Regions from separate parts of the Homo sapiens genome. Here region 1 is linked to region 2. The links come from fine-mapping of genetic effects on gene expression. A gene starts in region 2. The other region holds a variant in brackets. All regions are shown on one strand. Distances are from middle to middle.

Region 1 (2,989 bases), 87 kb after region 2:
GCGGATGCAGCATCACATGCAACAGATGCAACAAGGAAATATGGGACAGATAGGCCAGCTTCCCCAGGCCTTGGGAGCAGAGGCAGGTGCCAGTCTACAGGCCTATCAGCAGCGACTCCTTCAGCAACAGATGGGGTCCCCTGTTCAGCCCAACCCCATGAGCCCCCAGCAGCATATGCTCCCAAATCAGGCCCAGTCCCCACACCTACAAGGCCAGCAGATCCCTAATTCTCTCTCCAATCAAGTGCGCTCTCCCCAGCCTGTCCCTTCTCCACGGCCACAGTCCCAGCCCCCCCACTCCAGTCCTTCCCCAAGGATGCAGCCTCAGCCTTCTCCACACCACGTTTCCCCACAGACAAGTTCCCCACATCCTGGACTGGTAGCTGCCCAGGCCAACCCCATGGAACAAGGGCATTTTGCCAGCCCGGACCAGAATTCAATGCTTTCTCAGCTTGCTAGCAATCCAGGCATGGCAAACCTCCATGGTGCAAGCGCCACGGACCTGGGACTCAGCACCGATAACTCAGACTTGAATTCAAACCTCTCACAGAGTACACTAGACATACACTAGAGACACCTTGTAGTATTTTGGGAGCAAAAAAATTATTTTCTCTTAACAAGACTTTTTGTACTGAAAACAATTTTTTTGAATCTTTCGTAGCCTAAAAGACAATTTTCCTTGGAACACATAAGAACTGTGCAGTAGCCGTTTGTGGTTTAAAGCAAACATGCAAGATGAACCTGAGGGATGATAGAATACAAAGAATATATTTTTGTTATGGCTGGTTACCACCAGCCTTTCTTCCCCTTTGTGTGTGTGGTTCAAGTGTGCACTGGGAGGAGGCTGAGGCCTGTGAAGCCAAACAATATGCTCCTGCCTTGCACCTCCAATAGGTTTTATTATTTTTTTTAAATTAATGAACATATGTAATATTAATAGTTATTATTTACTGGTGCAGATGGTTGACATTTTTCCCTATTTTCCTCACTTTATGGAAGAGTTAAAACATTTCTAAACCAGAGGACAAAAGGGGTTAATGTTACTTTAAAATTACATTCTATATATATATAAATATATATAAATATATATTAAAATACCAGTTTTTTTTCTCTGGGTGCAAAGATGTTCATTCTTTTAAAAAATGTT[T/TA]AAAAAAAAAAAAAAACTGCCTTTCTTCCCCTCAAGTCAACTTTTGTGCTCCAGAAAATTTTCTATTCTGTAAGTCTGAGCGTAAAACTTCAAGTATTAAAATAATTTGTACATGTAGAGAGAAAAATGACTTTTTCAAAAATATACAGGGGCAGCTGCCAAATTGATGTATTATATATTGTGGTTTCTGTTTCTTGAAAGAATTTTTTTCGTTATTTTTACATCTAACAAAGTAAAAAAATTAAAAAGAGGGTAAGAAACGATTCCGGTGGGATGATTTTAACATGCAAAATGTCCCTGGGGGTTTCTTCTTTGCTTGCTTTCTTCCTCCTTACCCTACCCCCCACTCACACACACACACACACACACACACACACACACACACACACACTTTCTATAAAACTTGAAAATAGCAAAAACCCTCAACTGTTGTAAATCATGCAATTAAAGTTGATTACTTATAAATATGAACTTTGGATCACTGTATAGACTGTTAAATTTGATTTCTTATTACCTATTGTTAAATAAACTGTGTGAGACAGACACCCTGACTTTGTTTCACTTGATAACACATCTTTGTCTTGGAGTACACCCGTTTTAAGTGCCTAATGCTTAGGATTCAGAGGAAAAAGTGAAAGCATTAGCTTATAGCCTCTTTAATCTACTACGTATAATGTATTCACAAGTAGATCTTGGTGAATTTATCCAAAGTTCTGGGAAAAAGTACTGCAGGTACCAGCTAACAGTCAAGGTGGAAGTGATAACCTACTTAACACCTTGATACAGGACCCCTTAAGGATGACCTCATGGTCTTCCAATCACCTTCATCTTACAGGGATGAGAAGGAGGACCTAAGAAGACGGATCATATCTGCCTAAGTCCCAAGTAACTTCTTGGAAAAAACAAGACTTGCCAGGCATGGTGGCTCACGCCTATAATCCCAACATTTTGGGAGGCCAAGGCAGGCAGATCACGAGGTCAGGAGTTCAAGACCAGCCTGGCCAATATGGTGAAACCCCCATCTCTACTAAAAATCAGCAGGGCGTGGTGGTGGGCACCTGCCGTCCCAGCTACTTGGGAGGCTGAGGCAGGAGAATCAGATCCTGGTGGAGGTTGCAGTTAGCCAGGATCTCACCACTGCACTCCAAAGACTCCGTCTTTTAAAAACAGAGAAGATGAAGCTAGGGGAACACTCCTGTTTGCTAACTGAATACAAAGAAGTCAGTTGGAATCGGGTTGAAGGGAAGGAAAATGTGTGGAAATAAAACCTAGAAGGCTGAGAGAGATTACACATGAGTCCAGTAATATGCTAGATGCTCAAAGAATGGAGAGATTATTGATCCTCCATCTGAACATTGCAGTAGCTGTGAACAAGTTGTTAAAACAAATGTGTTAGTACACTAAAAAGTACTGAGCTGCTTTGGTATCAATTCCAGATCTTTCTTTTATCACAGAGATTTACACTAACCATATATGACTGCTAAAGGATTTCAGATACGTTGACCTGTTGCTACTATTTTAGTCTGAAAACAACCAGCATCTTTTTTTTTTAAGACAGTCTCGTCACCCAGGCTGGAATGCAGTGGCACAATTGTAGTTCACTGTAGCCTCAAACTCATGGGCTGAAGCAGTCCTCTTACCTCAGCCTCCCTAGTAGCTGGGACTCAAAGGTGTGTACCATCATGCCTGGCTGACTTTTTAAAATTTTTATAGAGACAGGGTCTTGCTATGTTACCCAGTCTGGTCTCGAACTCCTGGACTCAAGTGATCCTCCACCTTGGCCTCCCAAATTGCTGGGATTACAGGCATGAGCCACCTTACCAGCATCTTAATGTGAGGTGA
Region 2 (2,500 bases):
CGTTGGGGCCTAGGGCGGATCCCGTGATTGGGACAGGCCCCGCCCCCGGCTCCACTTCCCCCATTGTGTGAGCGGCTCGGGCCTAGGCCCCGCCCCCCTCCGGAGGCCCGGCCACTCCCCTTTTCCACCCCCCCTTGGCTCATTTCCGGCCGCCGCCGCTACCGCTAGCCTGTAAGGAGGATTCGGCAGAGGGAAGAAACAACAGCCGCCATCTTGTTTGTGTGCTAGGCTGGGGGGGAGAGAGGGCGAGAGAGAGCGGGCGAGAGTGGGCAAGCAGGACGCCGGGCTGAGTGCTAACTGCGGGAGCCAGAGAGTGCGGAGGGGAGTCGGGTCGGAGAGAGGCGGCAGGGGCCGAGACAGTGGCAGGGGGCCCGGGGCGCACGGGCTGAGGCGACCCCCAGCCCCCTCCCGTCCGCACACACCCCCACCGCGGTCCAGCAGCCGGGCCGGCGTCGACGCCTAGGGGGGACCATTACATAACCCCGCGCCCCGCGGCGTCTTCTCCCGCCGCCGCGGGCGGCCCCGAACGGAGCCCCGGGGGGCGGGCGCTCCCAGCACCTGGCCGCCGGCGGTGGGGGCCGTAGCAGCGGCCGTATTTATTTATTTTCCGCGGGAAAGGAAGGCGAAGGAGGGGAGCGCGGCGCGAGGAGGGGCCGCCTGCGCCGCCGCCGGAGCGGGGCCTCCTCGGTGGGCTCCGCGTCGGCGCGGGCGTGCGGGCGGCGCTGCTCGGCCCGGCCCCCTCGGCCCTCTGGTCCGGCCAGCTCCGCTCCCGGCGTCCTTGCCGCGCCTCCGCCGGCCGCCGCGCGATGTGAGGCGGCGGCGCCAGCCTGGCTCTCGGCTCGGGCGAGTTCTCTGCGGCCATTAGGGGCCGGTGCGGCGGCGGCGGCGCGGAGCGCGGCGGCAGGAGGAGGGTTCGGAGGGTGGGGGCGCAGGCCCGGGAGGGGGCACCGGGAGGAGGTGAGTGTCTCTTGTCGCCTCCTCCTCTCCCCCCTTTTCGCCCCCGCCTCCTTGTGGCGATGAGAAGGAGGAGGACAGCGCCGAGGAGGAAGAGGTTGATGGCGGCGGCGGAGCTCCGAGAGACCTCGGCTGGGCAGGGGCCGGCCGTGGCGGGCCGGGGACTGCGCCTCTAGAGCCGCGAGTTCTCGGGAATTCGCCGCAGCGGACGCGCTCGGCGAATTTGTGCTCTTGTGCCCTCCTCCGGGCTTGGGCCCAGGCCCGGCCCCTCGCACTTGCCCTTACCTTTTCTATCGAGTCCGCATCCCTCTCCAGCCACTGCGACCCGGCGAAGAGAAAAAGGAACTTCCCCCACCCCCTCGGGTGCCGTCGGAGCCCCCCAGCCCACCCCTGGGTGCGGCGCGGGGACCCCGGGCCGAAGAAGAGATTTCCTGAGGATTCTGGTTTTCCTCGCTTGTATCTCCGAAAGAATTAAAAATGGCCGAGAATGTGGTGGAACCGGGGCCGCCTTCAGCCAAGCGGCCTAAACTCTCATCTCCGGCCCTCTCGGCGTCCGCCAGCGATGGCACAGGTTAGTTTCGGCAGCCCCGGCCTTCCACGTTCCCTTTAATCTTTTCTACTCGGTGCGCCTTTATTCTTCCATTTTTTTTTTCTTCCTCTCTCTCTAGTTCCCTGCCCCTTAATTAATTTTAAAGGTATTTGAATGAGCTGGTCGAAGACGTCCAGTAGCCCAACCATTTTCTTTGCCTCCTAATACATTGATTGCAACACTATGTCATATCGGTGTGTGTTCTGGAATTAGAGCTCGTAAGTGGGTGCTATATAGAAATGGCCTGTATTGTTGCTCTCATGCAATTTAATTTGGGAAATGCCAATGCATTTGTGTGTAAGAGCTCCTATGCAATTTAAGTTTCATTTTTTTTGTTCTTGGCAAATGAATTTCGAATCCTTTCTCTTTACTGTACTTACTGTGTTTCCTCTACTTTCCACTCTTCGAAATTTTCTCTCCTTTGCAGAATATTTTCTGTTGAGGAATAGGGTGTAAAAAAATCTTGATTTTGTGTGTGCGAGGTCCAAGATTTCAGGTTAGAGGTGAAGTTTAACAATTCTTTTATCTTACCTACCATTCTTAGCTTTTTTTTCCTTTTTCTTCTTATTTGCTTTAAGAATCAATATGGAGCGCAGTTCATTTCACATCTCCCAGTTCTTTGGTGTGAGACCAAAATGTCTGAAACTCTGGGTTTTTAGGTTGGGAGAACAGGGGCATGTTCTTTGCAGTTTGCAGTCACTTTCTCATTTTAGGGGAAATAAGATAAACAATTTTGTGGAGTTACGTACCTGGAAATCAAGGTTAGAAGTTGAAAGAGTTCCAATCATGAACTACAAACGTGAACTGATTGTACAAAAGTTTAAAATGTGCATTAGGTTTGGTGTTTGTGTGTGTCTTTGTCTTTTTACACTTTTAAACATACTTGGAGATCAAGATTTTCGTTTAAAAGCTTTACGACCAGTTCATTCAGTTGTGGACTAGCTCCTTTGTCAGGAG

Alleles and levels. Positions count from the first base shown, and alleles are read on the strand shown. Sizes are in standard deviations (SD) of each study's normalised expression.
As copies of TA replace T in region 1, the expression in CD4 T cells of the gene that starts at base 1,019 in region 2 goes up (moderate effect, 0.49 SD a copy in CEDAR).

Evidence for each region. PIP is the estimated chance that this variant, and not a neighbour inherited with it, causes the effect.
Region 1: its variant is the best candidate, but not a certain one, in a credible set for the expression of EP300 in CD4 T cells (CEDAR, PIP 0.64).

Annotation. Positions count from the first base shown.
Region 1 is chr22:41,178,386-41,181,374 of GRCh38, forward strand. EP300 (EP300 lysine acetyltransferase) reads left to right here. Exons shown (of 31, transcript NM_001429.4): 31 at 1-1,692. The coding sequence ends at 571. Among named protein-coding and RNA genes, the nearest start is that of EP300-AS1, 18 kb to the right of the region's middle. The variant T/TA (reference allele first, on the strand shown) is at 1,148.
Region 2 is chr22:41,091,574-41,094,073 of GRCh38, forward strand. EP300 (EP300 lysine acetyltransferase) reads left to right here and starts at 1,019. Exons shown (of 31, transcript NM_001429.4): 1 at 1,019-1,525. The coding sequence starts at 1,432. MIR1281 (microRNA 1281) reads left to right here and starts at 940; the gene lies at 940-993. RefSeq lists silencers at 1-209, 310-1,079, 1,260-1,359 and an enhancer at 1,470-1,709.